4 linked regions of the Homo sapiens genome follow. The protein of the gene in region 1 purifies or fractionates together with the protein of each later gene. This does not show direct contact. Each region holds a gene or a part of one and is shown on either strand. Other genes may lie near its edges. The genes, in order: PRKCG, IVNS1ABP, TCF25 and PCK2.

Evidence for each region.
Region 2: the proteins of PRKCG (region 1) and IVNS1ABP purify together in Homo sapiens (affinity purification with mass spectrometry; one large-scale study listed by BioGRID and IntAct). This does not show direct contact.
Region 3: the proteins of PRKCG (region 1) and TCF25 purify together in Homo sapiens (affinity purification with mass spectrometry; one large-scale study listed by BioGRID and IntAct). This does not show direct contact.
Region 4: the proteins of PRKCG (region 1) and PCK2 purify together in Homo sapiens (affinity purification with mass spectrometry; one large-scale study listed by BioGRID and IntAct). This does not show direct contact.

The regions. Positions count from the first base shown.
Region 1 is NC_000019.10:53,892,157-53,899,957, forward strand, and holds part of PRKCG (protein kinase C gamma type), read left to right. Parts: intron 1-352; coding exon 353-487; intron 488-831; coding exon 832-919; intron 920-1,205; coding exon 1,206-1,235; intron 1,236-5,802; coding exon 5,803-5,955; intron 5,956-6,283; coding exon 6,284-6,472; intron 6,473-7,801. UniProt on the Homo sapiens protein: Calcium-activated, phospholipid- and diacylglycerol (DAG)-dependent serine/threonine-protein kinase that plays diverse roles in neuronal cells and eye tissues, such as regulation of the neuronal receptors GRIA4/GLUR4 and GRIN1/NMDAR1, modulation of receptors and neuronal functions related to sensitivity to opiates, pain and alcohol, mediation of synaptic function and cell survival after ischemia, and inhibition of gap junction activity after oxidative stress.
Region 2 is NC_000001.11:185,305,492-185,313,292, reverse strand, and holds part of IVNS1ABP (influenza virus NS1A-binding protein), read left to right. Parts: exon of another isoform or gene 1-808; intron 809-1,970; 5' UTR 1,971-2,198; intron 2,199-3,781; 5' UTR 3,782-3,799; coding exon 3,800-3,910; intron 3,911-4,120; coding exon 4,121-4,290; intron 4,291-4,417; coding exon 4,418-4,493; intron 4,494-5,630; coding exon 5,631-5,804; intron 5,805-6,153; coding exon 6,154-6,279; intron 6,280-6,665; exon of another isoform or gene 6,666-6,805; coding exon of another isoform or gene 6,806-6,808; intron 6,809-7,649; coding exon 7,650-7,757; intron 7,758-7,801. UniProt on the Homo sapiens protein: Involved in many cell functions, including pre-mRNA splicing, the aryl hydrocarbon receptor (AHR) pathway, F-actin organization and protein ubiquitination.
Region 3 is NC_000016.10:89,879,734-89,887,534, reverse strand, and holds part of TCF25 (ribosome quality control complex subunit TCF25), read right to left. Parts: intron 4,185-7,801; coding exon 4,023-4,184; intron 2,954-4,022; coding exon 2,879-2,953; intron 1,688-2,878; coding exon 1,569-1,687; intron 1-1,568. UniProt on the Homo sapiens protein: Component of the ribosome quality control complex (RQC), a ribosome-associated complex that mediates ubiquitination and extraction of incompletely synthesized nascent chains for proteasomal degradation.
Region 4 is NC_000014.9:24,100,105-24,107,905, forward strand, and holds the end of PCK2 (phosphoenolpyruvate carboxykinase [GTP], mitochondrial isoform 1 precursor), read left to right. Parts: coding exon 1-109; coding exon of another isoform or gene 110-201; exon of another isoform or gene 202-649; intron 650-2,648; coding exon 2,649-2,786; intron 2,787-3,055; coding exon 3,056-3,151; intron 3,152-3,405; coding exon 3,406-3,860; 3' UTR 3,861-4,021; downstream 4,022-7,801. UniProt on the Homo sapiens protein: Mitochondrial phosphoenolpyruvate carboxykinase that catalyzes the conversion of oxaloacetate (OAA) to phosphoenolpyruvate (PEP), the rate-limiting step in the metabolic pathway that produces glucose from lactate and other precursors derived from the citric acid cycle.

The sequences.
Region 1 (7,801 bases):
GGGATGGCAGGGAGACAGAGATCAGTTGACAGGAAGACAGAGTGATAGAGACCCAGAGAGGAGAGAAGGGTACAGAGACTCAGAGAGAGAGATCTCGAGAGACAAGAGACAGAGATGGGAAGGGGCGGAGAATGCAGGAGGAAGGGAGAGGAAGAGCTCTCTAGGTTTACTTCAGGCCCCAAAGCCCTAGCTGGAGAGAGAGCCCGGCTGGGAAGGTCAGAGGTCGGAGACCGACAAAGCAGGAGAGGAGCCCCAGCTGGCTGGGTTTGCCCCCACCTCCAGCACCAAGGATGGGGAACCGAGGGGAGCCATGAGCTCGGCTCTGCACCCCATCCACCCCACCTTCCTGCAGCAACCTGAAGCCAGGGGATGTGGAGCGCCGGCTCAGCGTGGAGGTGTGGGACTGGGACCGGACCTCCCGCAACGACTTCATGGGGGCCATGTCCTTTGGCGTCTCGGAGCTGCTCAAGGCGCCCGTGGATGGCTGGTGAGGAGCAGGGCTGGGGCCTGGGGATGGAGCGCAATATTACCATCTCCATCTGTGTGTGGTCTCTCTCCTCCAGGCCACTGTCCTTCCCTCTGCCTCCCAGCATGCGCACACACACACACACACACACACACACACGCACACACACGCACACACCCCTCTCTCTCTATTCTTCTCTTCTTCTCCCCTCCCTTTCTCCCTCTCCCTCTCTTTTTATCTCACTCTTTCTCTCTTCCATCTCTGTGTCCGTCTCTCTGTGTCTCTTTCCTCCCTTCCAATGTCTTTGCCTCTCCCATGGGTGCCCCATCCCCGCTGCCCGCCTCTGGTCTCCGTCTGTATGTCAGGTACAAGTTACTGAACCAGGAGGAGGGCGAGTATTACAATGTGCCGGTGGCCGATGCTGACAACTGCAGCCTCCTCCAGAAGTTTGAGGTACCCAGACCCTGGCTTCCTCAAGGGAGCCCAGCCCAGCCTCCCACGGTTCAGAGCTGGCCTTTCCTTCCACCCCTGAGTGCCCGCTGGTCCTGGGACTACAGTTCCCAGAAGACCCTAGGACTCCCTCCTCTGCTCTTCTAGGGGACTCGAGCCCCAGGGTCTGATGGGAATTATAGTTCCTATCTATCGCCATGGCTTGAGGGTACTAGGGGCCACCAGCCCCTGTTCTAGGGCGATCCCCTGCATCTCTTGGGACCCTGACTCTCTCTTTCTTTTCTCCCAGGCTTGTAACTACCCCCTGGAATTGTATGAGGTGAGTAGAACCAGGGCGTTGAATGGAGGCAGTTTTTGCCTACTTCTCTGATTTCTTATTCCTCCTCTGACTTCTGTCTTCAATTCCCCACACATGAGTTGAGCACACATTTGTGCTAGGCCTGTCTTGTGCTTGCTGAATAATCCAGGATCCAGAGATGAATCTGACCCTCAAGCAACTCTCCAAGGTAGGGACACAGTCACAGATACTTAAAATACAGGAAGATGTGCTAAATTAGAGGTAGCCCAGGGCACTGAAGAGGCCTAACGGAGGCACTAATCCAGCCTGGGGGAGGGTGGTCAGGGAGGACTTCCCTGAGGAGGTGACGCCTGAATTGATTCTTGAGGTTTTTTAAAATTTTTTAATTTATTTTTATTTTTATTTTTATTTTTATTTCTGTCGCCCAGGCTGGAGTGCAATGGCACAATCTCGCCTCACTGCAACCTCCAGCTCCCGGGTTCAAGCAATTCTCTTGCCTCAGCCTCCTGAGTAGCTGGGATTACAGGTGACCGCCACCACACCCAGCTAATTTTTTTTTTATTTTTAGTAGAGATGGGATTTCGCCATGTTGGCCAGGCTGATCTCAAACTCCCAAACTCAGGTGATCCGCCTGCCTTGGCCTCCCAAAGTGCTGGGATTACAGGCATGAGCCACTGCGCCCGACCGATTCTTGAGTTTTTTATTTTTTTTTTGAGACGGAGTCTCGCTGTGACGCCCAGGCTGGAGTGCAGTGGTGCGATCTCGGCTCACTGCAAGCTCCGCCTCCTGGGTTCACGCCATTCTCCTGCATCAGCCTCCTGAGTAGCTGGGACTACAGGCGCCCACCACCATGCCCGGCTAATTTTTTGTATTTTTAGTAGAGATGGGGTTTCACCGTGTTAGCCAGGATGGTCTCGATCTCCTGACCTGGTGATCCACCCGCCTCAGCCTCCCAAAGTGCTGGGATTACAGGCGTGAGCCACCACACCCAGCCGATTCTTGAGTTTTAAAAAATCTATCAAGCATGATCATCTTAATCTCTCCATTCATTCATTCACTCACTGAATATCCTTCTTTTTCTTTCTTTCTTTCTTTCTTTTTTTTTTTGAGACAGAATCTCCTTTTGTCACCCAGGTTGGAGTGCAGTGATGCAGTCTCAGCTCACTGCAACCTCTGCCTCCCAGATTCAAGTGATTCTCCTGCCTCAGCCTCCTGAGTAGTTGGGATTACAGGAGCGCACCACCACACCTGGCTAATTTTTGTATTTTTAGTAGAGATGGGGTTTCGACATGTTGGCCAGGCTGGTCTCGAACTCCTGACCTCAAGTGATCCACCCGCCTTGGCCTCCCAAAGCGCTGAGATTAGAGGCGTGAGCGACCACGCCCAGACGAATACCCATTTTCTAGGGTGTCATAAGCCAGGCCCTGTTCTGGGAATAGAATCAGGCCATTCCCTGGTGGAGCTCTTCTTCTAGTGGAGGACAAAGTTACAAACCCAGACATTCACAACGAGGAGCAATGCTGCTGTAATGGAGACAGCCTCAGGCACTGGGGCGTCCCTGGCACAGCCTGAGTCAGAGAAAGCTTCCTAGAGAGGTGAGACCTGGTAGAAGGGCGGGATTTCCCAAAGGAGAGACCAGATTTTCAGGCAGGAGGAAGTAATGCTCTCTCCCTCATTTACCCTTTCAAAAAATACTTTACAGAGCATCTTTGTGTGCCAGGCGTGGCTCTACTCACTGGGGATATAGAGAAAGCAGGGAAAGAACAAACAAACAAACAAAAAAGTTCCTTTCCTTATGGGATTTACACCGGGAGGAAGACATTAAACAAAATATATAAGCATATGATAGACTGGGCACGATGCCTCATGTCTGTGATCCTAGTAAGGCGGGCGGATCACCTGAGGTCAGGAGTTTGAGACCAGCCTGGCCAGCGTGGCAAAACCCCATCTCTACTAAAAAATACAAAAATCAGCTGGGCATGGTGGAGGCGCCTGTAATCCCAGCTACTCGGAAGGCTGAGGCAGGAGAATTGCTGGATTCCGGGAAGTAGAGGCTGCAGTGAGCCCAGATCGCTCCACTGCACTCCAGCCTGGATGACAGAGGGAGACTCTGTCTCAAAAAAAAAAAAAAAAAAAAAGAAGACAAGAATCTTCAAGATTCAACAACAGCAACAACATGTTATAGTCTTTACTGGACTCTTACAGAAACTTTCACCAGAGTTTTTAATGTTGTGTGTGGGGGTTCACCTGCATCAGAATTCCTAGAGTGCTTGCTTTTAAAAGCACATTCCCCAGCCTTTCTGCAGACCTACTCAGTGACGATCTCTCTGATGCCTCAAATGTCTGCCTACTAAATTAATTCCTCAGGTGATCCTTTTGCAAAGTTAAGTTTGAGAATGGGCTCTGCGGCCGGGCGCAGTGGCTCACGCCTGTCATCCCAGCACTTTGGGAGGCCAAGGCGGGTGGATCACGAGGTCAGGAGATCGAGACCATCCTGGCTAACACGGTGAATCCCCGTCTCTACTAAAAATACAAAAAAATTAGCTGGGCGTGGTGGTGGGTGCCTGTAGTCCCAGGTACTCAGGAGGCTGAGGCAGGAGAATGGCATGAACCTGGGAGGTGGAGCTTGCAATGAGCCGAGATCGTGCCACTGCACTACAGCCTGGGTGACAGAGCGAGACTCTATCTCAGAAAAAAAAAAAAAAGAGAGAATGGGCTCTGCAGGAGACAAGGGTACCAGCGGGAGGACATTCTGAGCCAAAGAGGTAGAGTCTTTTGAGATCAGCAGGGATGATCCTCCCGTACAAACCCAAGAAACCCAGCAGGGCAGATGGTGGGCAAAGGCCTAGAGGCAGGGAGTGTAGGGTGGTGTGTGTGCCTGTTGTGGCTCACAGCACTCTCCCACAGTTCAGCAGGCACCACTTAATATTACCAATGAACACCAACTCTGTGCCAAGCCTTGAGCTAGGTACGGGGCTAACAACACAGCAAACAGAAACAGCCCTGATTATTATTATTATTATTATTATTATTATTATTATTATTATTATTATGTATTTATCTATTTGAGACACAGTCTCGCTCTGTCGCCCAGGCTGGAATGCAGTGGAGCGATCTCAGCTCACTGCAACCTCTGCCTCCCGGGTTCAAGCGATTCTCCTGCCTTGGCCTCCCAAGTAGCTGGGACTACAGGCATGTGCCACCATGTCCTACTAATTTTTATATTGCTAGTAGAGATGGGGCTTCGCCATGTTGGCCAGGCTGGTCTTGAACTCCTGACCTCAGGTGATCTGCCCACCTCGGCCTCCCAAAGTGCTGGGATTACAGGCATGAGCCACCGCACCCAGCCCTCAACAAATATTTATGTAGCCTCAATGAGGTAGGCAGTGTTACTGTGTCTTAGCGAACAAAGCAGACCCCTGCCTTAGGGAGCTCACAGGCAGAAAGCAGATAGTCACACAGATAGATGTAAATTACTAAGAATAAAAGTGCCAGGAAGGTGCTGTCCATGGTGACCAAGGGGTGGTAAGAGAGGCATCTGACCCAGTTTAAAAAGTCAGGCGAGGCCTCTATGAAGTGATGCTTGAGTCAAGGTCTAAAGGGTGTTTGGGAGACAACTAGGAGGGAAGGGGAGGGGAGAGCTTTACAGGAAGACCTAACGGCACATCCAGAGGCCCTGAGGTGGGAGGGAGGACAATGAGTGTCAGGCCAGGGTGGCTGGACCATGGAGCCTGGGAGAGAGAAGAACAACCTGCAGTGTCAGTCTCAGCCTGGCTCTGCAAGTCATGTGGAATAAAATCTTAACACAGAGGGAGCAGTTAAAGGGTTTACAAGCATAGGGGAGACATGACCTGGTTTATTTATTTTTAAATTGGCTCCTGTGCCTGCTGAGTAGAGAATGCATTAGAAAGGGCAGCCGTCCATGTAGAGGGACAAGTGTGGAAGCTGTGACAGCAGCTTAGTCTTGGGCCCCCTCCCTGGGGGGCCGAGGCAGGAAAAGGTAGAGAAGGGACCCTAGCTGAAAGCCAGGTGTGCTCCCTGGACTGGCAGCACCCATGTCACCCAGAAGCTTTTTACACATAACGATTCTCAGGTCCCACCCCAGATTTATAGAGTTAGAAAATCTGGCAGTGGGACCCAGCAATCTGTTTTACCAAACCCTCTAGGGAATTCCGGCTTAGAGGCTAAGAGCAACCAGATTCTAGAGCTGGACTGCTTGGGTTTCATTTCTGGCTCTGTCCTTTACCTGCTGTGTGACTTGGGGCAAGTTACTTAACGTCTCTGTGCTAGTCTCCTCTTCTGTAAAATGGAAACGATAGCAGGGTTTTCTGGAAACAGCATATGATAAGCTATCTAAAAAAAAAAAAGAAGAAAAAAAGAGCTAAGTGTTTGTTGAATAATAAATAAACCCTCCAGGCTATGGGGAGTCAGAGAAAATTAAGCCAAGGACAGGGTAGGAGGGTGGCCATTTTCCTCTGTCTAGCGATTCTCATCCTTTCCTTTCTTGGGTGCTGTGTCTCTTGGGAGCATTTCCTTATCGCTGTGTAAGGTCTAACTGCCTCTGGCTCTTTCTTTCTCCTTTCCACAGCGGGTGCGGATGGGCCCCTCTTCCTCTCCCATCCCCTCCCCTTCCCCTAGTCCCACCGACCCCAAGCGCTGCTTCTTCGGGGCGAGTCCAGGACGCCTGCACATCTCCGACTTCAGCTTCCTCATGGTTCTAGGAAAAGGCAGTTTTGGGAAGGTTGGATTCCTGGGGTTCTGGGGGAAAGGGAGGATGTCTGTGGGAAGGTCAGATTTCTGGTTCTTAGGGAGGAAGTGGGGGTGGGAAGAGACTGGGCTCCTGCATCTTCAAATATGGTTAGGTTGGGCCGTTCAGGTTCCTGGAGAGGAGAGGTTTACAGATGTGGACACTCTCCTTGAGGGGACGGGCGGCAAGTCAGGGCTGTCAGTCCCTTAAGAGATGGAGGAAGGGCCTGGGATCCCGTTTCCCTGCGTCCCTTAGGGAGGGGGCAGGTCCTGTACCACTGGGTTCCCAACATGGACTGGCCCTTTTGGAACTGTGCGCATAGGTGATGCTGGCCGAGCGCAGGGGCTCTGATGAGCTCTACGCCATCAAGATCTTGAAAAAGGACGTGATCGTCCAGGACGACGATGTGGACTGCACGCTGGTGGAGAAACGTGTGCTGGCGCTGGGGGGCCGGGGTCCTGGCGGCCGGCCCCACTTCCTCACCCAGCTCCACTCCACCTTCCAGACCCCGGTAAGGATGGAGGGGGCGGAGGCTGTCCTCCGGGCCCTGCCTTATCCAGTTCTGGACATCTGCGTTGGGATTCTGAGTTTAGGGCGAGGCAAGAGAACTTTGTGCTCTCTGAGTGGGCGAGGCCAGGCGGATTGTCTCCTCAGGGGGCGTGGCCGGGGGGGGGTCCTTGGGGGGCGTGGCCAGGCGAAGGGACTCATCGGGGGGCGTGGCCAGGCGGAGGGGCTCAACGGAGGCGAGGCCGGGTGGAGGGGCTCCTCGGGGGCGTGGCCAGGTGGAGGGACTCATCGGGGGCGTGGCCAGGCAGAGGGGCTCTTCGCGGGGCGTGGTCAGGCGGATGAAATCTTTGGGGGGGTGGTTTAGAGGGGCGGGCTTTGTCAGGCGATGGGATCATTAATAGGCGTGGCCAGGCAGATTGGCTCCTTGGGGGCGAGGCCAGGCAGACGAGATTATGAATGAGCGTATCCAGGCAGGTAGATTCTTCGGAGGGCGTGGTCGGGCGGATGAGCTCCTCGGGGGCGTGGCCAGGCGGTGAGTTCCTCGGTGGCATGGCCTGGCCAGGTGAATGGGTCCTGCGGAGGTGTCGTGAAGCGGTTGAGTTCCTTGGGGGCGTGGCCAGGTGGATGGGCTCTTGGGGGGAGTGGCCAGATGCCTGTTTCCCTGGGGAGCTTGGTCTTGAGTGGCTGTAGCCAGTGCTCTGGAATTTTCAGCAAAGGGGCACAGTGGAGGAGGGTGCCTTCCTAGTGGGCCTGCCCAGAATTGGGCTCCGAGTGACGGGGTCATCACTTTTGGATTCTGACTGAAGGACACATCAGAAACAGGACATTATTTCCTTAGGATTGCGACTTAGGGGCAGAGAGTCAGAACCTGCAAGATTTTAAGAGGGCGTGACTTTACTTCCAGGGGCTCCGAATGAGAGTGGCCAGCCACCTGGATTAAAATATATGTATGAGCAACTTTGATTCCTTTTTTTTTTTTTGAGAAGGAGTTAGCTCTTGTCCCCCAGGCTGGAGTGCAATGGCGCGATCTCGGCTCACTGCAACCTCCGCCTCCCGGGTTTAAGCAATTCTCCCGTCTCAGCCTCCTGAGTAGCTGGGATTACAGGCTCCCGCCACCACACTCAGCTGATTTTTGTATTTTTAGTAGAGACCGGGTTTCGCCACGTTGGCCAGGCTGGTCTGGAACTCCTGACCTCAGGTGATCCACCCGCTTCGGCCTCCCAAAGTGCTGGGATTACAGGCGTGAGCCACCACGCCCAGCTGCAACTTTGATTCTTAGTAGGAAGCCAGAATTGCATCTGTGTGTGAGTGGCTGTGGAAAGAGATTTTGGTG
Region 2 (7,801 bases), on another chromosome or scaffold:
AGAGTAAAAACTAAATAAAAATCAAGCACTAAATACAGGATTCATTTTACTGCAAAACTCATAATAATATTGTACAAATTTGTCTGATGCAAATTGCCCCAAAAATTCTCCAGTGTTTTCTCCAAGGGCTGCAGTAATTTTAACCATTTTTTTCCAAAATAAATTTTAGGTAGATCATTCAATTTGTCAAATATAGTAAGTGGATACCATTTTTATTTTTTGTTAGATCAAGTTTACAAGTAAAAAGTGAGTAAAACTGGTCAAAGTTTAAAATAGTACCTTCATATTATAATGTTTTTGGCTTTTCAGAGGATGCATTTTAATATAACAATTTGCATGGGGACTCCTTCCTCTTATTTTAAGAGCAGCTTATGAAACTGAAGTTAGGAGTTGCCAACTATGCCTGTGAATTGACCATGCCAGTATAAATCATATATATATGAAAATTTTCTTAGTTTGAGCCAGGTCTTGGCTGAAAATGTTTGAAGGTTTCTTTAGGATAGTGTGTTCTCTCTGTGTAGAAAGAATTATGTATATTTGGAAAACATTTGTTAGAACTAGTTTCTTAGAGAAAAGCCAAATTAACTAACCTAGATAAAAGGTAGAGCAGAGGAAATCAATATTACCTAATGCTGTGATATAGTTTTGATGCAAGGGTAAGCATTCACAACAATCCCAACCCGAATTGGCATTATTGGGTTTCCTTGAAATGAAACCTGTTACAGAGAGACCTGTTAGGACACATGTTGAACTAAACATAGTAGGTTTGTTGAATTCGAACTGGACCAGCCTGCAGTGGAGTCCTGTGGTAAGTGATTATTCACTTTGACGTAATTGTTAGATTTAGAATTGTTGTATTGATGTATAAGGCAAATAATCTTAAGATATCCATAAAAATGAATATATTTGCACGTATTTCAGGTAAGTTATTCCTTAGTTCTGGTTTCCAGAGTTAATAGTGGTGTAATAGCAGTTCAGGTGATTACAAAATAAGTACCATCAGAATTTGACACTAGTAATTGATGATGTGAAAATGAGGGAGGGAGAATAGGTAGGAGGACTGATTACCTTGAAGATTAGGTTTGAACCAGAATGATTCCATTGGTAGTTTATTACTGTGTATGAGAAAAATGATTATACAAAGCACAGGCATCAGTATTTTCCCTTCTGTTTAGTTTATTCCAACAAATTACTCATCTTTATGTTCAAGTTTTTAGGCTAGTCCTGGTAGAGAGGAGATGGGATGGATACAAAAGATGAACAAGACAGAAGGTTTGCCCATGAGTCAAGGAAGATAAACAAGTATATATAAATACAGCATGAATATAAATACAGCATGAAACAGACCAGCTGGAAGATCATAAATACCCCTCAGATAGGGTTCTAAATGTGGAGGATGAGGAGAAACTGCTTCCCAACTGGGAGCATTTGGCAGAGGCTCTATGGCTGTAAGATTTCCTCTGGCAGAGGTTGGGTTAAGGGCCTTCCAGGTAGAGAGAAGAACTTGAACAAAGTTAACAGAGCCTGGGAAGTGCAGAGTTCATTTTGAGGAACAGTAACATAGTATATATGCTTGGGAATAATGCCTAAGGTTGCTTGCTGGCTCAAAACAGATCTCATGTTTGCATATTAGTTGGAAATTAATAATAAAGAATATTAGAATTAAACAGTATTGACATTTGTTTTGTAGTCTTGTGCTTTTATACCTCTCATAAACATAGGTCATTAGCCCCTGCCCTTTGGGAAAGGACTTTTTTTTTTTTTTTTAATCACTTGGGTTGTTGCAAGTTAAATGAAAAATGTTTATGTGGAATTGCATTTGTGTTCTTTTTTTATGTAATGGGAATATTTTTGCCATTTATGTCAAATCTCTTGAAGATCAGGACTTGTTTTACATGATCTGCTCTACCTAGATCAATGACAGTCTTTGATTATTCTGAATATCTAACTTAAATTTATCATTGTTATAGATTATGATGCATCATTATCACAGAAGAAATTCGTGTCTATAGCTTTTAAGGACTTGATTACATCATTTTCAAGCCTGATAGTTTTGGAATCACCATTAGAGCTTAAGACACACCTGCCTTCATTTCAACCACCTGTCTTCATACCCTGACGAAGTGCACCTTTTAACACTCCTTTGTCCTTGGATTACTTAAGAGTTCCCAGAAATACATTTGCCACCAACAGAGTAGGTAAGTGAATGTTCTCTGCCTAGTCCAGTATTAAGACACATTGTTTTTCTGAAGACGGATGTCGAGTACAGTAAACCTTTCATACTCTTTTTTTAAAGGCAGAGAAGTCAGTAATCATTTGAGTATAAAAAACATCATATTTTTCTTTTCTATATTTTGACTTTAAATAAATCAGTAACTTCAAATTAAAATTTCTTACTGCCTTTTTTTTTTTCCTTAAAGAGATAAGATCTCTGTTGTCCAGGCTGGAGTGCAGTGGTGGGATCATAGCTCACTGCAGCCTGGAACTCCTGGGCTCAAGTGCTTCTCCTGCCTCAGCCTTCCTAGTAACTGGGACTACAGGTGTGCGCCACCACCATGACTGCCTAATTTTTACATTTTTTGTAGAGACAGGATTTCACTATGTTTCCCAGACTGGTCTCAAACTCCTGGGCTCAAGCAATCTTCTTGCCTTGGCCTCCCTATTACTGTTCTTTATTTTATTTTATTTTTTTAAGATGGAGTCTCTCTGTTGCCCAGGCTGGAGTACAGTGGCACAATCTCAGCTGACTGCAACCTTTGCCTCCCAAGCAATTCTCCTGCCTCAGCCCCCACAAGTAGCTGGGATTACAGGCGCCCGCCACCATGCCTGGCTAAATTTTGTATTTTTAGTAGAGATAGGGTTTCACCATGTTGGCCAGGCTGGTCTTGAACTCCTGACCTCAAATGATCCACCTGTCTCGGCCTCCCAAAGTGCTGGGATTACAGGTGTGAGCCATAGCGCCCAGCCTATCACTGTTTTTTAATTATGCATTTTGTGTAGTCATTAGTCAGTTGTTTATAAGTAATGGTAAAATGCAAAAAAGTTGTAAGTTCCCATTTATATTTATATAATCTGATGAGATAAGTGATTTAGAATATATGAAAGAAAGGAACAGAATATAAGTTCATCTTTTTAAATCACTGTATATGTTTCAAAACATTTATAAAAATAATTTCGTAGATACAGTGACAAGACTAATCAGACTTTTTAAGTTTGTGTACTAGGCAAGGGAGGAAGACATTAGGCAATTTTCTGCATATAAATCTTGATTATATATAATTTTGAAGACTAGAAGCAAATTGGGGGCCCTTTAAGACAACTGAAAAAGGCTAGGATTAGGATAAGTAACAGTTTTTCTCATTTGTGGGTAAAGGAATGACAGGAGCCCAAATCCAAGGAAACCTATATGTACTGGCTATTTCACCCTTTCAGGCTTTTAGATTACTTATTATATGGGTTTGGGCAGGATGGAGTTTCGTTTCCTTCCCTTCCCTTCCCTTCAGAATGAATTTGCTTAATGGGCATGGGAACCTGGCCAAAATTGTCGAGATAGCTGCTACTGTTTGAATCCTTTAAAAGTCTTATGACCAAAGTATTAGGGAACAAAGACTTGGACATTCAACACAGGTGTTGTTTCAGCTAAGTTTTTGTGTGATGAAATTTTTATGTGTTGTTTATAGGATGGAATTTGAGAATAAAGAGACTGTATTACTCTTTAGCATTATATTTTTAAAACCATCAGTTGCAAGTAAAATAACTCAGCTTTCTTTTCATCATCTAGCCAAATTTATAAGGAAAAATGATTCCCAATGGATATTTGATGTTTGAGGATGAAAATTTTATTGAGTCTTCTGTTGCCAAATTAAATGCCCTGAGGAAAAGTGGCCAGTTCTGTGATGTTCGACTTCAGGTATTTAAAACTTAATTCAAAATTTATAGAATTTTTTATTACTAAAAGCCATAAGTTCTTAGATTTGCTTATTTCTTTTTCATAGGCATTTAATGAAATGATTTTTTAAAAGAATACTGAGAAATGTAAGATAAAGGAATCTGATATAGTAATTAGCTAGAGAAGCACATAATCCACAATACTTATAATTATAATTCTTCATAATTTCAGGTCTGTGGCCATGAAATGTTAGCACACAGAGCAGTGCTAGCTTGCTGCAGTCCCTATTTATTTGAAATCTTTAATAGTGATAGTGATCCTCATGGAATTTCTCACGTTAAATTTGATGATCTCAATCCAGAAGCTGTTGAAGTCTTGTTGAATTATGCCTACACTGCTCAGTAAGTACATTTGAAGTAAACCATATAATTAGGGAATATCTTCAGAAAATTCCAAGTCTTGCTACATATATTTAAATTAAGTGTGTTTTAAGGCTTTGGTATCATAAGTAACTTTTTTTTTAAATAGGTTGAAAGCAGATAAGGAATTGGTAAAAGATGTTTATTCTGCAGCAAAAAAGCTGAAGATGGATCGAGTAAAGCAGGTAGAGTATCAGAAGTAAATAAAATCATTTATGGAGTCTTATTTTGTGTGATTGCAATGCTGAATTTGTCATAAAACATCTTGTTAGTTTCAAGGACTTGAACATGTCCCTTTTTTCCCTCAGAGTAGTCAATATGTTATTTTAACTGTTTGGCTATAATAATGTAGCAAGATCACACTTCTTCTCAGATAATTTGGGCTGAAGTCTGACCCTTTCAGCAATCTTCTCTGGTAGGGTGGCTATGTCAGCCTTTGATAGCATGAATTAAAATTAATATTTTTCTTAAGAGTTAATCACATAACTTATATCCTCAATTCTGTGTTCTCCTAAACTTCCTGTGCTCTCTAAAAGTATTCCTTCTAGAATTTAATGCCAGTAAAAAGTACTTTTGGAAAACAGGCATTTAATCCCCTAATGCATGGGGGTCAGTAAACTTAAGGCCTACTGGCCAGCTGCCTATTTTTATAAAGTTTTATTCAAACACAGCCATGTGTGTTCATTTACATATGGTCTACACTGCTTTCCAGCTACAGTGACGGAATTGAGCAGTTGTGACAAACAGAATGGCCTACAAGCCTAAAATGCTTTTACTATCTGGCCCTTTAAGAAAAAGTTTGATTTGCTAGCCCTTCTTCTAATACCACTCCTTTGTTCAAAAATCCTTCCTTAATTTACAGTACATATCCCTGCATTTAGTTTCTAGATTTTCCCTTATATAGTTGCTGTCTTTCCAAAACTATTTCCTAGTTATCTTTTCTCCAACCAAATTAAATTGTTTGCAGCATCTTCTCTACTTCTGTCTGCATTCAACATCAACATCATCTCTCCTGTAGAGCCCAGTTCAGATACTGCGTTTCATGAAGCCTTACCAAATTATTCTACTTGAAAATACTTATGTGAACTTACATAGCATTTCAATTTGTTGTACCTCTCCTTAAACTAAAACTTACATATCTGTATGGCATAATTAGATGTTTATCATTTGTATACGTGTTATTACCACTATTAACATTTGTTGTATTAAGACAGTGATTTTTGATTCTTTGTATCTTCACATAGTCTTTACCACACTGAACATTAAATATTTGTTGAATAAAAGATATGTAAGTGTTGGCACTCATATATTTCTTTTCCAAGGTTTGTGGTGATTATTTACTGTCTAGAATGGATGTTACCAGCTGCATCTCTTACCGAAATTTTGCAAGTTGTATGGGAGACTCCCGTTTGTTGAATAAGGTTGATGCTTATATTCAGGAGCATTTGTTACAAATTTCTGAAGAGGAGGAGTTTCTTAAGCTTCCAAGGCTAAAGGTAAGGAGTAAAGTCTATAAACAGATATATACTATCTAGTTCCAGGCGTGGAATCTTGGTCTGTGTTTCAAGCAAGTGAGTAATGATTATGAAATAATACATTGAAATTATATTGTTATTCTTAGCAGCGTAATGGGTTTCTCCCTACCAGTTTGTTTACTTTGTTTTTGATTCAGTAATCAAATTCCTTACAAATTCCTGGTTCCTTACAAATTCCTGGTTCCTTACAAATTAGAGTAAATGTATGGAATGAATTGTGCATCTGTGACAACTTTATTATGAAATTGGGAATTAAGCTGAGAACTAGGAGCCCAACACTGATCCATGTCATTGTTTTTCCCAATTCTAGTTGGAGGTAATGCTTGAAGATAATGTTTGCTTGCCCAGCAATGGCAAATTATATACAAAGGTAATCAACTGGGTGCAGCGTAGCATCTGGGAGAATGGAGACAGTCTGGAAGAGCTGATGGAAGAGGTTAGTTTTAAAGTAAATGGGATTCAACCATTTTTAAAAATTATTTTGCTATAACATGAAGGATTCCCTTTCACTTTTATTTTATAACCATGACCCTAAAGAATTTAAATTTTGCTATAGGTACCCCTAAGCTGAGAAACAGGGGGGGTGTCCAGGTGAGCTGAATGAACTGTTCAGTTTGGTCTTCTGCTTTTCTTTTTTTATTTCTTTGCTTATTATGTGCTGTTAACTTTCTTTAAAGTAGCATGTAATTTGCTTTAGAAATGGGAAGTGGTACTGAAATTTTCTGTAGATTCTTAATTTTTCTTCACAGGTTTTTGCTTTAAATTTGACAAGTAGGTAAAAGCTTCTAATGGTTGTTCCTCCCCATTGATTTATCTCCCCATAGGTTTATTAACAAAACTAGGATACCCAAGACTGAAGAAACAAGAAGAAACCTCAAGTGTATTGACACGTAAAGAAGCAGCAGTCCTGCCCCAGTTCTCCTAAGAAAAATCCGCTGTGGGCAGAGAACGATGATGATTTAATGGTGTTTACTCCTTTACAGGATTCTTGTCTTTAAAGCTGTGTGTTTTTCAATGGTGTTGTTCATACATATAGTCACTCACTTAACTTGGGCTACTTTTAAAAAAAATACACAAGATAAAATTGATGGAGAAATGGTGGGAATTGAAAACACGCAGGTGGAGCAGTGGAGTAACCTTGAGTTTCTCTCTCCACTTAAACCTTTCGGAGTTCCTTTATGAGGGCTTACCAAATCTGTTAGGCCTGCAGAAACACTGTCATCATTATGGTCTAAAAGGGCTAACAGATTATCTTTAAATTCTATGATTCCCACTTGAAAGTCAGATGCATTTGCCATGTATTTGCATCTGTCTCAATGGAGATGACTCTACAGCTTGCTTGAATTTTTGCATTTGTTTTTTCTTTGTTTTTCTTGACATTGCTTACAGGAAGGAAATATGTTTATGCAAACCAGACCACTTATCTGCAAAGGTGTAAACTATATTCAGTATTTTATTGTAAATATGTATATTCTTTAAGAGTATATATTGTACTAGTGCTTTTTTTCTTACTGTTATATGATAGAAGCTATGAAAAAAATGAAGATTTCTTTCAAGCCAATCAAGCCAACGACTCTTCAGCCAGTATTGGAAGATTTTGTATTTGATTTTGGTTTTTTGTTTTTGTTTTTTAATTTTTACCACCATGACATGTATTTTTCTTTACCTCCGGATCCTGCCAGAGTAATATGTCAAGAAGCTCAAGAAGCACACTGGAGGTTACCTTGAGGCGTTTGTGTAATCTGCATACTAGTGGAGTAGCCATGGTGACCGTAGCCACATGGGTGTTCTGTTGCTGTTTTGCAGGTTCAAACCTTGTACTACTCAGCTGATCACAAGCTGCTTGATGGGAACCTACTAGATGGACAGGCTGAGGTGTTTGGCAGTGATGATGACCACATTCAGTTTGTGCAGGTACACATTGCACAGTCTGAGGTAACCTCAGGTTAAAATTTGAC
Region 3 (7,801 bases), on another chromosome or scaffold:
AGCTTCCAGGCCTTTCTCTAAAATCACCACCCCAACCACAGCTGAGGCCTCGCCACTGCGGGCACCATGGGGAAGCTGCCGTCACTGTGCCGTGAGGGCGCTCGGTGAGTGCTGTGTCAAGAGGCACTGTGTGTGGCACACGTCTGTTTCTGAGGCTGAGTCGGGGCAGTGCACGCACCCTGGGACTACACTACTGCGTCTTAACTGACTCCACGGAGCTTTTTTTTTTTTAAGCTGGCAATAATTTCTGAAGTAGGGACAGCGATTCATTAAGCATCTGTAAGACCAAGAGATGAATTAATCATCCAAGGATGACAGGGTAAGGAGGAACTTTTTGACCAGACGTGGTGGTTCACACCTGTAATTCCAGCATTTTGGGAGACTGAGGCAAGAGAATCTCCTGAGCCCAGGAGGTCGAGGCTGCAGTGGGCTATGATCACACCACTGAACTCCAGCCTGGGTGATAGAGAGATCCTGTCTCTTAAAAAAAAGAAAAAGAAGGAACTCTCTAATATACATAAGAAGTAAAACTAGAAGTTCTCTGAAATATGGATGACTTCCTTTCCTCCTTGTTCCTATTTCCTTTTGTCGGGAGACAGAGTCTCGCTGTATCACCCAGGCTGGAGTGCAGTGGCGCGATCTCGATCTCGGCTCACTGCAACCTCTGCCTCCCGGGTTCAAGCGATTCTCCTGCCTCAGCCTCCTGAGTGGCTGGGATTACAGGCACCCACCACCACATCCAGCTAATTTTTGTATTTTTTTTTTCTTTTTTTTGAGACGGAGTTTTGCTCGTTGCCCAGGCTGGAGTGCAGTGGCACAATCTCAGCTCACCGCAACCTCCGCCTCCCAGGTTCAAGCAATTTTCTGGCCTCAGCCCCCTGAGTAGCTGGGATTACAGGCATGCGCCACCACGCCTGGCTAATTTTGTACTTTTACTAGAGATGGGGTTTCTCCATCTTGGTCAGGCTGGTCTCAAACTCCTGACCTCAGGTGATCTGCCCACCTCAGCCTCCCAAAGTGCTGGGATTACAGGCGTGAGCCACCGGGCCCGGCCTATTTCCTAAATGAGTAATAACAAACTCATATTATTATTATTATTATTTTTTTGAGACACAGTCTCGCAGTGTTGCCCAGGCTGGAGTGCAGTGGCACAATCTCGACTCACTGCAAGCTCCACCTATTGGGTTCACGCCATTCTCCTGCCTCAGCCTCCCGAGTAGCTGGGACTATAAGGCGCCCGCTACCACGCCCAGCTAATTTTTTGTATTTTTAGTAGAGAGGGGGTTTCACCATGTTAGCCAGGATGGTCTCGATCTCCTGACCTCATGATCCGCCTGCCTTGGCCTCCCAAAGTGCTGGGATTACAGGCGTGAGCCACCACGCCCAGCCAATAAACTCATATGATTTTTAAATAAAGACAGTACATTTTATTTTTCCTTTTTTAGAGAACCTTTTCCTCCCACGAAGTCTCTGTGGCAGCCACAGAGAAGGGCAGCCGCAGAGAAGGGCAGCCGCAGAGAAGGGCAGCCGCAGAGAAGGGCAGCCGCAGAGAAGGGCGGGGGCCACACCTGTGCTCCACGTAGAGAACGTGCTTCCTGGAGCTCAGGGGAGCTGGGCCGGGACGGTTCAACCCAGTGCTGTCCTCAATCCTCTCTAGGATGCGATCGATATCTTCTAGTCCGTTTTCCTAAAAGCCCCAAAACAACCTCTTAATCACCACACTGACATTATTTTAAATATTGTAACAATAACAAAATTATTTATCTTAAAAGAGACCTATTACACTGTATTTACTTCCTAAAGGACAGCATAAGTCAAACACTATGTACCATCCACACATTTAGAAAAAAGAAGAGATGTTTCCTAAGAAGCGCTCAGCATAGACAGAATCACAGAACCAGAAGGACCCTAGAAAAAACTGGGCATTCCACATCACACTGGTGTGCTCACCTCCTCAGGCAAACAGGGTTGGGACTTGTGGCTCCAACTAAACGGCAACAAAGCTACACCCTTGTCTCAGGACACAGTCAGACGAGGACGAAGGGCAATGATGAAAACATATTTTTTTCTGATGACAGACTAGCTCCAGTGGAGGGTTCTGTACCCACCATGCAATTAACCCATAAGCATGGGACAGATGTCAGGGCAAACAGCAAGTGTCCCACGGGTCACAGGAGCACCAGAACTAGAAGGGATGTCCCCATCAGATCACACATTCCCACAGAGACACAGAGCAGAGCGCCAACCAGTCGAGGAACAAGGGTAAAAACAAGAAGCAGCATTTAGAAAGTAACTTTCCCTTTTCTTTTTCCCTGATCTCTTAGTTATACTCCTAATAGGAAGGAATAAAAATACTAAGTAAGCTTCTTTCAACACCACCTTGGAAAACAGCCAGAAGAGAATGGAGAGAGCGTCAGGCAGAGGGAGAGGGCGTCAGGCAGAGGGAGAGGGCGTCAGGCAGAGGGAGAGGGCGTCAGGCAGAGGGAGAGGGGCGTCAGGCAGAGGGAGAGGGCGTCAGGCAGAGGGAGAGGGCGTCAGGCAGACGGAGAGGGCGTCAGACAGAGGGAGAGGGGCGTCAGGCAGAGGGAGAGGGCGTCAGGCAGAGGGAGAGGGCGTCAGGCAGAGGGAGAGGGGCGTCAGGCAGAGGGAGAGGGGCGTCAGGCAGAGGGAGAGGGCGTCAGGCAGACGGAGGGCGTCAGACAGAGGGAGAGGGCGTCAGGCAGAGGGAGAGGGCGTCAGGCAGAGGGAGAGGGCGTCAGGCAGAGGGAGAGGGCGTCAGACAGAGGGAGAGGGCGTCAGGCAGAGGGAGAGGGCGTCAGGCAGAGGGAGAGGGGCGTCAGGCAGAGGGACAGAGCACAGCCAGGCCCAACTCACGTACCGATGCTTCTCCCGTGCTGCTTTTCTTGTTTTTCTGTTTTTTTTTCTTCTTCCGGAGTTTGCCACTTGCATGAGACTAATGATAGAAACACATTTTCATCAGTAGAATGAGAAGTAAATCTTAAGAAGTGAGAATTAAAGCAGCAAGCGTGACTCCACCCTCACCTAAGCAGCCCCTACCTCTCCCTCCGTGTCCCAAAAGTTCCTTCAACTCACTCTCTTCTCTCCAGCAGGCACCTTCCCACCTCTCCGAGCCCCTCGGGCTGTGCTACAGCAGTCCCCAGGGCCTTCTGTGTCCAGCCTCACAGGCTCACAGGACCCTGACCAGGTCCAGCTCTCATTCCTCCCTGTGTCGGCCACTCCCTGCCACACTGCAGCCACCCTGAAGACGGGGGCCTTGCTGTGCCCTGGCCGCCTCACACCGCACCTGTATGTGTGGTCCCCTACGCCTGCACCTGGCCAACCCCTTCTGACAGTAGGAAGGCTCCTCAGGAAGCCCCCAGGACCCTGAGCCTCAAGTCAGGACCCACCTGTCACTTCACATGTATGTTGCCCTCCCAACCAGAGGCTCCTGGGGGGCAAAGGCACGTTCCCAGCACCCAGCAAGCTCCCAAGAACACTTGTTGGATAAATGAACACAAGCTCTCCTTTTAGGGCCCCTCTTCTGTGCTGTGGAGCACAGCAGCAGGCTGTCTGCATCTCTGCCCATCCCACGTTAACCTGACCTGCATGTTTCTTCAAAGTTCACTTACACCAGCACCCAGATCCACAACCCAGCCAAGCAAACGTTCGGGGCACAGTTAGGAAGGACACACGTGCGCGGTCGGCTAGGAGGCACACACGTGCGCGGTCGGCTAGGAGGGACACACGTGCGCGGTTGGCTAGGAGGGACACACGTGTGCGGTTACATACACTGCTGGGCAGGCGCAGACTCTCCTGAGATGCAGGAGAAAGGCCTGCGACCTTCACTCATTTCATGCAAATCTCATCAAGGTTCCCAAGTAAATTTGGGGGCAACTAGCAGGTAACCAAAATGGAACTCGGAAAATTACACCTCCAAGGAAAATCACAGCACAGGATACACGTGGCTGGGTGCCTTGGAACTCTCCCGTCTGATGCCACCTCCTCACCACTCAGCCCCCCACCTGCTCTGAGGGCACTGTCTCGGTGTCATCTCCATCCGTCTTGCTCTCTGTGTTTCCACGCTGACCCCTTCCTTTGTTCCCTGGTGCCACAGCGTCTGTGAGCGCACAGCCAGACCTCTCCCCGTTCACCACAGGGTCATCCTCAAGATCGTCAATGTTTATCTGGAAAAACAGGTTGGAGAAGAGCCAGGGCGTTACTTACAGTGTGAACGCTCATGCTGAGATATGAATAGTGAGATGTGAACGGGCTTGCGTTGGGGACCCCCAGGGTCAGTGCGAGACGCTGGACGGGAAAGATGCAAGAACCCGAGACTGTTGGACACAGCAGTGACTCAGCTCTGGCTCAGGGGGACTTTGTCAGCAGCTCTACAGAAAGCCGGGGCCCCGAGGCTATGGGGTATCTCTGCCTTCAGAGATGAGGTAAGGAAGACTCCTCAAATATTGTAATTTACTCCATTTACAGAGGACCATCTGCAGGACAAAACGTTAAATATATATATTCAGCCAATGCATTAAAGTTCCTTCTTCCTCCTTTCTCCTCAAGCCTCAGCTCCTCTCCAGCAGCAGGCAGGAAAAAAAGGCACCAAGGACCCATCAACCTACAAACTTTTCCTAATGAAAATGATAGGCCAGGCGAGGTGCTCGCGCCTGTGATCCCAGCACTTTGGGAGGTTGATGCAGGCGGATCACTTGAGGTCAGGAGTTCAAGACCAGCCTGGCCAACATGGCGAAACCCTGTCTCTACTAAAAACACAAAAATTAGCCAGGCACAGTGGCAGGAGCCTGTAATCCCAGCTACTTGGGAGGCTGAAGTGGTATAATCGTTTGAACCCGGGAGGCAGAGGTTGCTGTGAGTCAAGATCGCACCACTACCCTCCAGCCTGGGCAACAGAGCAAGACTCCATCTCAAAATAGAAAAACAAAATGACATACGATAAAAATAATTCATACGATGAAACCTTCTCTCTCTCTTTTTGAGACAGAGTCTCGCTCTGTCATCCAGGCTGCAGTGCAGCAGTGTGATCTTGGCTCACTGCAGCCTTGGCCTCCTGGGTTCAAGCATCCTCCTGCCTCAGCCTCCCAAGTAGCTGGAACTACAGGCGTGAGCTACCATGCCTGGCTAATTTTTTAAATTTTTTTGTAGAGATGGGGGTCTCAACACATTGCCCAGGCTGGTCTTGAGCTCCTGACCTCAAGCGATCCTCCTGCCTCAGCCTCCCAAAGAGCTGGAGTTACAGGCGTGAGCCACCACGCCAAGTCTGGAACCTTTTTATAGCAGTGAGAATGAATGAATGAATGAACCACCACTGAACACACAATATGGATGAATCTTAGGAGTATAATATTAAATGGATAAAACCTCACAACATACATTCACATACAGATTGGAGGGGAGACAGGCAGTGGGAGAAGGGTAAGAACAGGAAAAGTTCTGGCTCCTCAGCTAGTGAGAGGCTGACCGGGCACGGTGGCGGTGCACCCCTGTAATCCCAGCACTTTGGGAGGCCGAGGTGGGTGGATCACGAGGTCAGCAATTCAAGACCAGCCTGACCAACATGGTGAAATCCCGTCTCTACTGAAAATAAAAAAATCGGCCAGGTGCAGTGGCGCGTGCCTGTAATCCCAGCTACTCGGGAGGCCGAGGCAGGAGAATTGCTTGAATCCGGGAGGCAGAGGTTGCAGCGAGCCAAGATTATGCCACTGCACTCCAGCCTGGGTGATAAGGCGAGATTCCATTTCAAGAAAACAAAAAAAAAAGAGGCTAACAGATTGGGTGTGGTGGCTCATGCCTATAATCCCAGCGCTTTGGGAGGCTGAGGCAGGAGGATCATCTGAGCCCAGGAGCTTGAAACCAGCCTAGGCAATACAGTGAGACCCCATCTCTACAAAAAATTAGCAGGGTGTGGTGGCACACACCTCTTGAGTCCCAGCTACTCAGGCGGCTGAGGAGGACTGCGTGAGCCCAGCAGTCCTGGAATCTGGAACCTGGAGTGAGCCATGATCACACAACGGCACTCCAGCGTGGGCAACAGAGCAAGACTCTAGCTCTAAATTTTTTAAAAAAAAAGCTAACAGAGACCAGCATCAACAATTCTTTATGAACTAGGAGATTCTGATGGATCCAATCGGATGCACTAAGGTTCAAAAATAAATAAAACTGCCTGTTTAATTTAAAACATCTTGAAAACCACAAACCTCAGAAAACACAATCAGCTCCAAGCCCCATAGCCCTGAGATAGTTTCTGAAACAGAATTGAGACTCGGCTGCACCTGGGAAGACAGACACCCCGGCTGCGGTTGCTGAAGAGAAGAAAGCACAGGGCAGGTCTGTGCTTGCCGGTCAGTCGGCTTTCTCTCCAATGGAGGCTCCCACATGACAAGGATACGATTCAGGAGCATCTTAAACGCCCGCTGAGACAAGTCAGGAGCAACTTACGCCCGTTGAGAAAATCCATGGCAGTATAGACGTGTTATGTAAACAGAGCCCCTAACTTGAAAACACTGACACTCCACCAAAACGAGGTTTGTCCCATCCCAGCAGCACCATGATGGTGATTCTCATGGTGATGCCTCCTTCTGCCTGGCCTTTGCTGGCGAAGCTGGGGCCTAGGCATGGGCCGGCTGCCTTGCACCCTGCAGTAAAGGAAGAAAGCTGAAACAAAGCCTATTGTTGAAATGTTTCTAACCTGTGGGTGGTCACTGGTAAATTGGATCTACACCATCTCCAACATTCAACTAATGATGATGTCTCTTAGTGAAGCTGGGTGCTGGTTTACTTGTCTGTTTTTAGAGATAGGGTCTCACTGTGTTGCCCAGGCTGGCCTCAAATTCCTGTGGTCAAGGGATCCTCCTGCCTCAGCCTCCCCAGGAGCTGGGACTACAGGCACACGCCACAACACCCAATTTACTTTTTTTTTTTTCTTTTTTTGAGATGGAGTCTTGCTCTGTTGCCCAGGCTGGAGAGCAATCGCATGATCTTGGCTCACTGCAACCTCCGCCTCCCGGATTCAAGTGATTCTCCTGCCTCAGCCTCCCGAGTAACTGGGACTACAGGCATGTGCCGCCATGCCAGGCTAATTTTTGTATTTTTAGTACAGATGGGGTTTCATCATGTTGGCCAGGCTGGTCTCGAACTCCTGACCTCAGGTGATCTGCCCGCCTCAGACTCCCAAAGTGCTGGGATTACAGGCGTGAGCCACCGCGCCCGGCCAACACCCAATTTACTTTTATTAACTCATGCTGACTTCCTAAGAAAAAAAATTCTTATTTTGAGGTGTTTGACAAATCGAATTCATAAAAAGCTCTATGCCAAGCTGAACTTCAATGGAAAGGAGCCTGTGTACACGGACAGCACGCGTGATGGGCTCAGGAGCCTGCCTGTGTACACAGACAGCACACATGATAGGCCCGGGAGCCTGTCTGTGTACATGGACAACACGTGTGACAGGCTCTGAAGCCCATCTGTGTACACGGACAGCACGTGTGATGGGCTCAGGAGCCTGCCTGTGTACATGGACAGCACGCGTGATAGTCCTGGGATCCTGACTGTTTACAAAGACAGCACACATGATAGGCCCAGGAGCCTGTCTGTGTACACGGACAACACGTGTGACAGGCTCCGAAGCCCATCTGTGCACACGGACAACACGTGTGACAGGCCCCGAAGCCCATCTGTGCACACGGACAACACGTGTGACAGGCCCCGAAGCCCATCTGTGCACACGGACAACACGTGTGACAGGCCCCGAAGCCCATCTGTGCACACGGACAACACGTGT
Region 4 (7,801 bases), on another chromosome or scaffold:
ACCAATGTGGCTGAGACCAGTGATGGTGGCGTGTACTGGGAGGGCATTGACCAGCCTCTTCCACCTGGTGTTACTGTGACCTCCTGGCTGGGCAAACCCTGGAAACCTGGTATGTGCGGTGGGGAAGGTGTGGCACAGCCTCCAGGCCTCAGCACCTTAATGGTGGAAAAGCTTTCTCCACAACCTCCAACCATCTTCTAGGACTGCCAGGAGGCACAGAAGTCATGAACGTTTGCAGTTTCCAGTCCCAGGCAAAATCTCAGTTCATGTCCCAACTCCACCAGTCACTGGTTTTGTGATCTGGCTAAGTTGCTCAACTTCCCTAAGCTTTAGTTTCCACATCAGTTGAATGAGGGTAGTTGTGATAGTACCTATCTCATGAGATTGTTGGAGGATTAAATAGTGCATAAAAAGGGTTTATCACACTGACAAATACACAGTAAATTCTCAATAATAAATACAGGCTGGATTTTTTTTTAATGAAAGGAAAAGGAAGGACTTTTGAACATTCTTACAGAAGGTATTGGGCTCCAAGCACTATCCATAAAGTTTGGCCCATTAGGAAAAGAGGAAAGCTGCCTCCTCTGCTCCAACTCTCCTCCTGCCACTTGGCTCCCACTGTCCCCTGTATAATAACCACTGTCTAAAGGTCAGTATTGTTACCGTCACCCTTCCCCTGTCCCTCCAAAGCATTCACCCCAATCCTTCCTACAAACAAAATCAGGTCAGTGCTTGAGTCTTTCCCAGAAGCTAGTTTCTGAATCCTGTCATTACCCTGGGCGCCTGGGAGTCCCACCTCTCCCTCAGCCCTGCACTCTGGACCTTCAGTATTCTTTCCATGGCCTTCTGCAGTCAGGCAGTCCAGACACCAAGAGGCAGGGGCAAAGAAGAGCATGGGAGGGGAGGCTGGCCTTGTAGTCACTGAAGCCTATATTCAGGTTTGCCAGGCTGGCCTAGCAGTCACCCTCCTTGCTTCATCTAATCACCCTTTATTTTTACTAACACCATCATTAAGCCCCCCTCAGCCTTCCCACCCAACTGAGAAATCCAAGAAACTTTCATCTTTCCCCACAGGCTAGTTCCCCAACCCTTTCATCATCTCCAGATTTGGGGGCATAACTAGGGCATCTTGTCCCCAGCTTCAATTCCCAGAATAATACCCTGTGTTAGGATTCTGCACTGGGTGCTGAAGAAGGATGGCTCTTATCTGCAATGGCGGGCAGAAGCTGGCGGATGGGAGAGGGTGGGGATTTTGGCCCCGTGGCTTCCCCACTCCCCAGGTCTGACCAGCAACCTCCAGCAGAGAAGGCACCATGTCCACTCAGGGGCCACACAGTGGTGCTTCATACATGTGCCACTGACTTAGTCCCAACCCCCCTCCAGGACACCTGAAGGTGCCAAGTGTGACCTGGGCTCCTGAGGTTATCCCTACCCATGTGATATCCCTATCTCTATTTTTCCAGCCCTATCACTTCATCAGGGTCTAAGCAGGGCAGGGAAATCACCAACATGTTGTTAGCTTTAAAATCAATTCCTTGCAGGGCACAGTGACTCACATCTGTAATCCCAGCACTTTGGGAGGCCGAGGCAGTTGGATCACCTGAGGTCAGGAGTTCGAGACCAGCCTGGCAACATGGCAAAACCCCGTCTCCAATAAAATACAAAAATTAGCCAGGCATGGTGGCTCATGCCTGTAATCCCAGCTACTCAGGAGGCAGGAAAATTGCTTGATCCCAGGAGGCAGAGGTTGCAGTGAGACAAGATCATGCCACTGCACTCCAGCCTGGTGACAGAGTGAGACTCCGTCTCATAACTAAATTAATTAAGTAAATAAAATCAGGCCAGGCGCAGTGGCTCATGCCTGTAATCCTACTACTTTGGGAGGCCAAGGTGGGCAGATCAGTTAAGGTCAGGAGTTTGAAACCAGCCTGGCCAACATGGTGAAACCCCATCTCTATTAAAAATACAAAAAAATCAGCCAGGCATGGTGGTGGGTGCCTGTAATCCCAGCTACTGGGGAGGCTGAGGTAGGAGAATTGTTTGAACCTGGGAGGCGGAGGTTGCAGTAAGCCAAGATTGCACCACTGCACTACAGCCTGGGCAACAGAGCAAGACTCTGCCTCAAAAATAAAAAGATAAAATAAATTCCTATTTGCATTTGGATAACTTAGGAGAACCTGTCTTCCCCGGTTTGCTGACGGAAAGTCAATTGTCTGAAGTACTAAGCTGACATTCTCAGTTTTTGCTTTAGGTTTGGGTATTCATTTAAATAATAATCTCACAAATAATGAAATAGTTTCTGGGGGAAAAATTATTATAACCTTATGCCCATATCTAACCCCATTCCCTTGAGCCCTGGTCAGTGCCAAGTGCCAGTAGCTTGGCACAAACATTAGTGCCCTGCCAAACCCCAATTCCTCTCCCACTCTTTTCTCACATAGCTCAGCTGGCCGCACCTTCATGGCTAAACAACCTGAGCTCTTGGAGATGCCCTGGCTCCCCTCTCTCTGCTCCTTATCACACAAGGTTCTAGGCAGCTGATGAGGCAAAAAAAAAAAAAGAACCCTGCAAGAATGTGTGCCCATGTATGTGTGTGTTGGGGGTCGACATGACCTTGGAAATAATAGTGTTTGTATTTCCTCTGCCAGGTGACAAGGAGCCCTGTGCACATCCCAACTCTCGATTTTGTGCCCCGGCTCGCCAGTGCCCCATCATGGACCCAGCCTGGGAGGCCCCAGAGGGTGTCCCCATTGACGCCATCATCTTTGGTGGCCGCAGACCCAAAGGTAAACAACATATGAGCTCCATGTTCTTGGCAAAAGGGCTATCTCTGTATTAGGGCCTACCTCCCTCCCTCTGATCCAGAGCCTCAGCCTGGATCTCACCTTTCTCCAGAGTTCTCCCCTGGTGAATGCAAACTTGGGAGGAGGCAAAGGGTCTGAAAATGGGATAGCCGAGGTCTTAGGAGAGAGAGTACCAGTCAAGCTCACCAGAAGGGCTGGAGTTAGGGTCCAAAGAAAAGGGCTGCCTGTGACTCTGTTCATTGGTGATCTAGGGGTACCCCTGGTATACGAGGCCTTCAACTGGCGTCATGGGGTGTTTGTGGGCAGCGCCATGCGCTCTGAGTCCACTGCTGCAGCAGAACACAAAGGTGAGCACCCTCACCATTCCTCCCTCTCCTGTGTGTGCACACAGCACGTCCTCTCTCCCTTCCTGAGCCAGACCTTCCTTTTGTCCACCCCTGGAGTCTGATATGGCCCCACCTCTTCCCACTTCTATCTTTTCCCCATCCCTGAAGATATTCAGAACCATAAGCCTTTCACAGCTTCCTCCAACTGGATGCAGGGTGCCCTTCCCTACCCCAGTGAGAAGGAAGATTCCTTACCCATCTTGCTTCCCCCCCAGGGAAGATCATCATGCACGACCCATTTGCCATGCGGCCCTTTTTTGGCTACAACTTCGGGCACTACCTGGAACACTGGCTGAGCATGGAAGGGCGCAAGGGGGCCCAGCTGCCCCGTATCTTCCATGTCAACTGGTTCCGGCGTGACGAGGCAGGGCACTTCCTGTGGCCAGGCTTTGGGGAGAATGCTCGGGTGCTAGACTGGATCTGCCGGCGGTTAGAGGGGGAGGACAGTGCCCGAGAGACACCCATTGGGCTGGTGCCAAAGGAAGGAGCCTTGGATCTCAGCGGCCTCAGAGCTATAGACACCACTCAGCTGTTCTCCCTCCCCAAGGACTTCTGGGAACAGGAGGTTCGTGACATTCGGAGCTACCTGACAGAGCAGGTCAACCAGGATCTGCCCAAAGAGGTGTTGGCTGAGCTTGAGGCCCTGGAGAGACGTGTGCACAAAATGTGACCTGAGGCCCTAGTCTAGCAAGAGGACATAGCACCCTCATCTGGGAATAGGGAAGGCACCTTGCAGAAAATATGAGCAATTTGATATTAACTAACATCTTCAATGTGCCATAGACCTTCCCACAAAGACTGTCCAATAATAAGAGATGCTTATCTATTTTACACAAGATTTGTGCTGTTTTCATTTCCCACCTATCTTCACAGGCTTCCCTCTAACACCTGTCTCACAATCATCTTCTTCCAGCCCCTAGAAGAAGCACAGCCTGGCACAATCAAAGATCTGTTTTACAGGTAGCTCTAGCACTGGGTCACAGACATAGGAATTGCTGGGAGAAGGCACTATCCACTCTATGTCCTGAGTTCTTAAAAAAAAAAAAATGGTGAGGCTGGGTGTGGTGGTTCACGCCTGTAATCCCAGCACTTTGGGAGGCTGAGGCGCACAGATCACGAGGTCAGGGGATTGAGACCATCCGGGCTAACACGGTGAAACCCTATCGCTACTAAAAATACAAAAAAAAAAAAAAAATTAACCGGGAGTGGTGGCGGGCGCCTGTAGTCCTAGCTATTTGGGAAGCTGAGGCAGGAGAATGGTGTGAACCCAGGAGGCAGAGGTTGCAGTAAACCAAGGTCGTGCCACTGCACACTCCAGTCTGGGCAACAGAGCGAAACTCCGTCACAAAAAAAAAAAACAAAACAAAACAAAACAAAAAAAAAACTGAGGGCCTCAGCAAGCTGCTCAGTACAGCCCCCAAGCCTAAAATTCCTGATCTCCCACTTAGATTGCAGAAGCCTCTACAACTCCATTCTCCAGTGAAGTGGCTTCATTGTCAGTTCTCGAATTTGTTCTTCCCCCTGCCTGACCTGGCACTGGGAGCTGCATAGTATTCATGGAAGCATATTCAATATTAGGACAGCTAACAACACTTCTGTGGCACCTTCTTTATGCCAGGCACTGCTGAGACCAGCTCTGTCAAGGAGACCCTAACCCAGCAGTGCTAGAGGAATTAAAAACACGCACACAGAAATATAGAGGTGTGGAGTGGGAAATCAGGGGTCTCACAGCCTTCAGAGCTGACAGCCTCGAACAGAGATTTACCCACGTGTTTATTGACAGCAAGTCAGTGATAAGCATTGTTTTTATAGATTAACTAAAAGTATTCCTTACGGGAAACAAAGGGATGGGCCAAAATGAAGAGATGGGCTCTGGCTGGTTATCTGCAGCAGGAGCATGTCCTTAAGGCACAGATCGCTCATGCTATTGTTTATGGTTTAAGAATACCTTTAAGCGGTTTTCTGCCCAGGGTGGGCCATGTGTTCCTTGCCCTCATTCCGGTGAACCCACAACCTTCCAGTGTGGGTGTCATGGCCATCACAAACATGTCACAGTGCTGCAGAGATTTTGCTTATGGCCAGTTTTGGGGCCAGTTTATGGCCAGATTTTGGGGGCCTATTCCCAACAAGGCAGTGTTCTAAGCACATACCTAACAACCCTTTGGGGGAATTACCATTTTACAGATGAAGTAACAAAGGCACAGAGAGGTCAAGTAATTTGTCCAAAGCTTCACAGTTAGTAAACAATAGAGCTAAGGGTTAAAGTGATAAAACTGCAAAGACATGTCTTTCATAGTAGTATAGACATCTACAACTGCAAGGACCTTAGAAGTCACCTATTCCACCGGGCGCAGTGGCTCATGCCTATAATCCCAGCACTTTGGGAGGCCAAGGAGGGCGGATCACCTGAGGTTGGGAGTTCAAGACCAGCGTGGCCAACACGGTGAAACCCCTTCTCTACAAAAATACAAAAATTAGCTGGGCATGATGGCAGGTGCCTGTAATCCCAGCTATTTAGGACAATCACTTGAACTCAGGAGGCAGAGGTTGCAGTAAGCCTAGATCATGCCATTGCACTCCAGCCTGGGGGACAGAGCAAGACTCTGTCTCAAAAAAATAAAAAAATAAAAAGTCACCTATTCCGTGTTTCTCAAACTTAAAAGTGCCTTTGAATCACCTGGAGATCTTGTTAAAATGCAGATTGTCACTCAGCAAGTCTGTAGTAGCCTCAAGATTTTGTTTTCCTTACAAGCTCCTGGGTAATGCTGATGCTGCCGGTCTGCGAACTACAGTTTAGAGTAGCCTAAATTCATCTGAAATAAACTTTGGAGAGTAATCAGGAAAACAGTGCAATGATCTCACATGAGTCAGGGGCATCAGCTTAGGATAACTTCTGTGCAATCTGGATCAGGCTGAGAGAATGTATAACCTAAGGTGGGTAGTGTGGTAGTCTTTACCCAGAAAAAGGGAACAAACTTCAACAAATAAAATGGAATTATTGGGAACTCCCTCAAAGGAAAAAACTAGAAGAGGAAACACCAAGTGTTCTCATAGGAAATGCCAGTGACCAGCCAGAATGTGTAAAAATCTAAAGGTCAGAGTGGAACAGAGGTTAGAACAAAGTTAGCAGTGGAGTATATTGTACTTTAAAACACAGCCAGCCAGGCGCGGTGGCTCACACTTTGGGAGGCCGAGGTGGGCAGATCACCTGAGGTCAGCAGTTTGAGACCAGCTAGACCAACATGGTGAAACCCCATCTCTACTAAAAATACAAAAATTAGCCAGGCATGGTGGCCCATGCCTGTAATTCCAGCTACTCAGGAAGCTGAGGCGGGAGAATCACTTGAAACTGGGAGGCTGAGGTTGCAGTGAGCTGAGATCACACCACTGCACTCCAGCCTAGGCGACAGAGTGAGACTCTGTCTCAAAAAAAAAATAAATAAATAAATAAATTTAAAAATTTAAAAATAATAATAAAACACAGCCAAATCCTTAGCTTCATAAATAGCATATGATAACTGAATACCGTCAAAAGCAACATAGCACAGGTATTAAACACATAGTAGACTTGAGCCAGAGGTGCCTCTCAGTTGCTTCATCTGTAAAATGGAAATGCCTACACTTTACAGTCTTGTTGGGAAGATTAAAAGAGTCAGTGGAATAAAGCACTCAGAACTATGCCTGGCACCGAATAACCATTTAATACATGTTAGCTATCATCACCTTTCCACTTTATAATGATTAGAGTAGGCCCTGTAAGCGTATATTACATATTGCTGACTCTACAGTTTAAAAGGAACATGAGCAATGTAAATAAAATCTAGGAGAGAAAGAAAATAGATTTAAAAATAAATCCCTCCAGCTAAGAGGCAGGGAACTGGGGTTCCAGGCACCTTTCTGGTATCTTCTAAATGCACAGGGACAAGAAAGTGTTAGCCTTAAAAATTATTTTTATTAATTAGAATAAAATGGGGCTGCATGCCCTTCAGCTCCAGATAACTGATAAAATATAGTTAACACATTATAATCTTTTTATTTTAAAATAAAACACAGATACAGAAGACCATCTAAAACAAAGTTATGGCTGAATAAACTATCATAAAGTGAACACCTTTGGAACACTACCCAGGGAAAGAAACAGAACTTTGCAGACACCAACCCAGCCCCGCCCCGCCCCGACCCTGTTGCCCATCTCTATCATAGCCACCCCTTCCTGCCATAGTGGATACTATGGTGAGTAATAATTACTTCTTTGCATTTTTTTATAGTTTGATCACCTAAATGTAGATCCTTAGACACTATAGTTTAGCTTTGCTCCCATTTAAAATTTTTTTCATATGTCTTTCAAGTCTCTATCAGTCTACAGATTCCCCCTCCATTCCTTTCTTTTCCTTCAATTTACCCATTGACGAATCCAGACTCAGATGTTCAGTGTCTAAATGCATTAACTCACTAGGGATTGCAAAACAGCCATATTTGAGTTGTCATAACATTGCAATAATTTTATAAAATGGACACTTCTATTTCATTACCCTATGGTATTGTTTATATAGAAACAGCAGGATAACTGCTTAATTCTTTATCTTTATTTATCATCTTCAAAAAAATGAT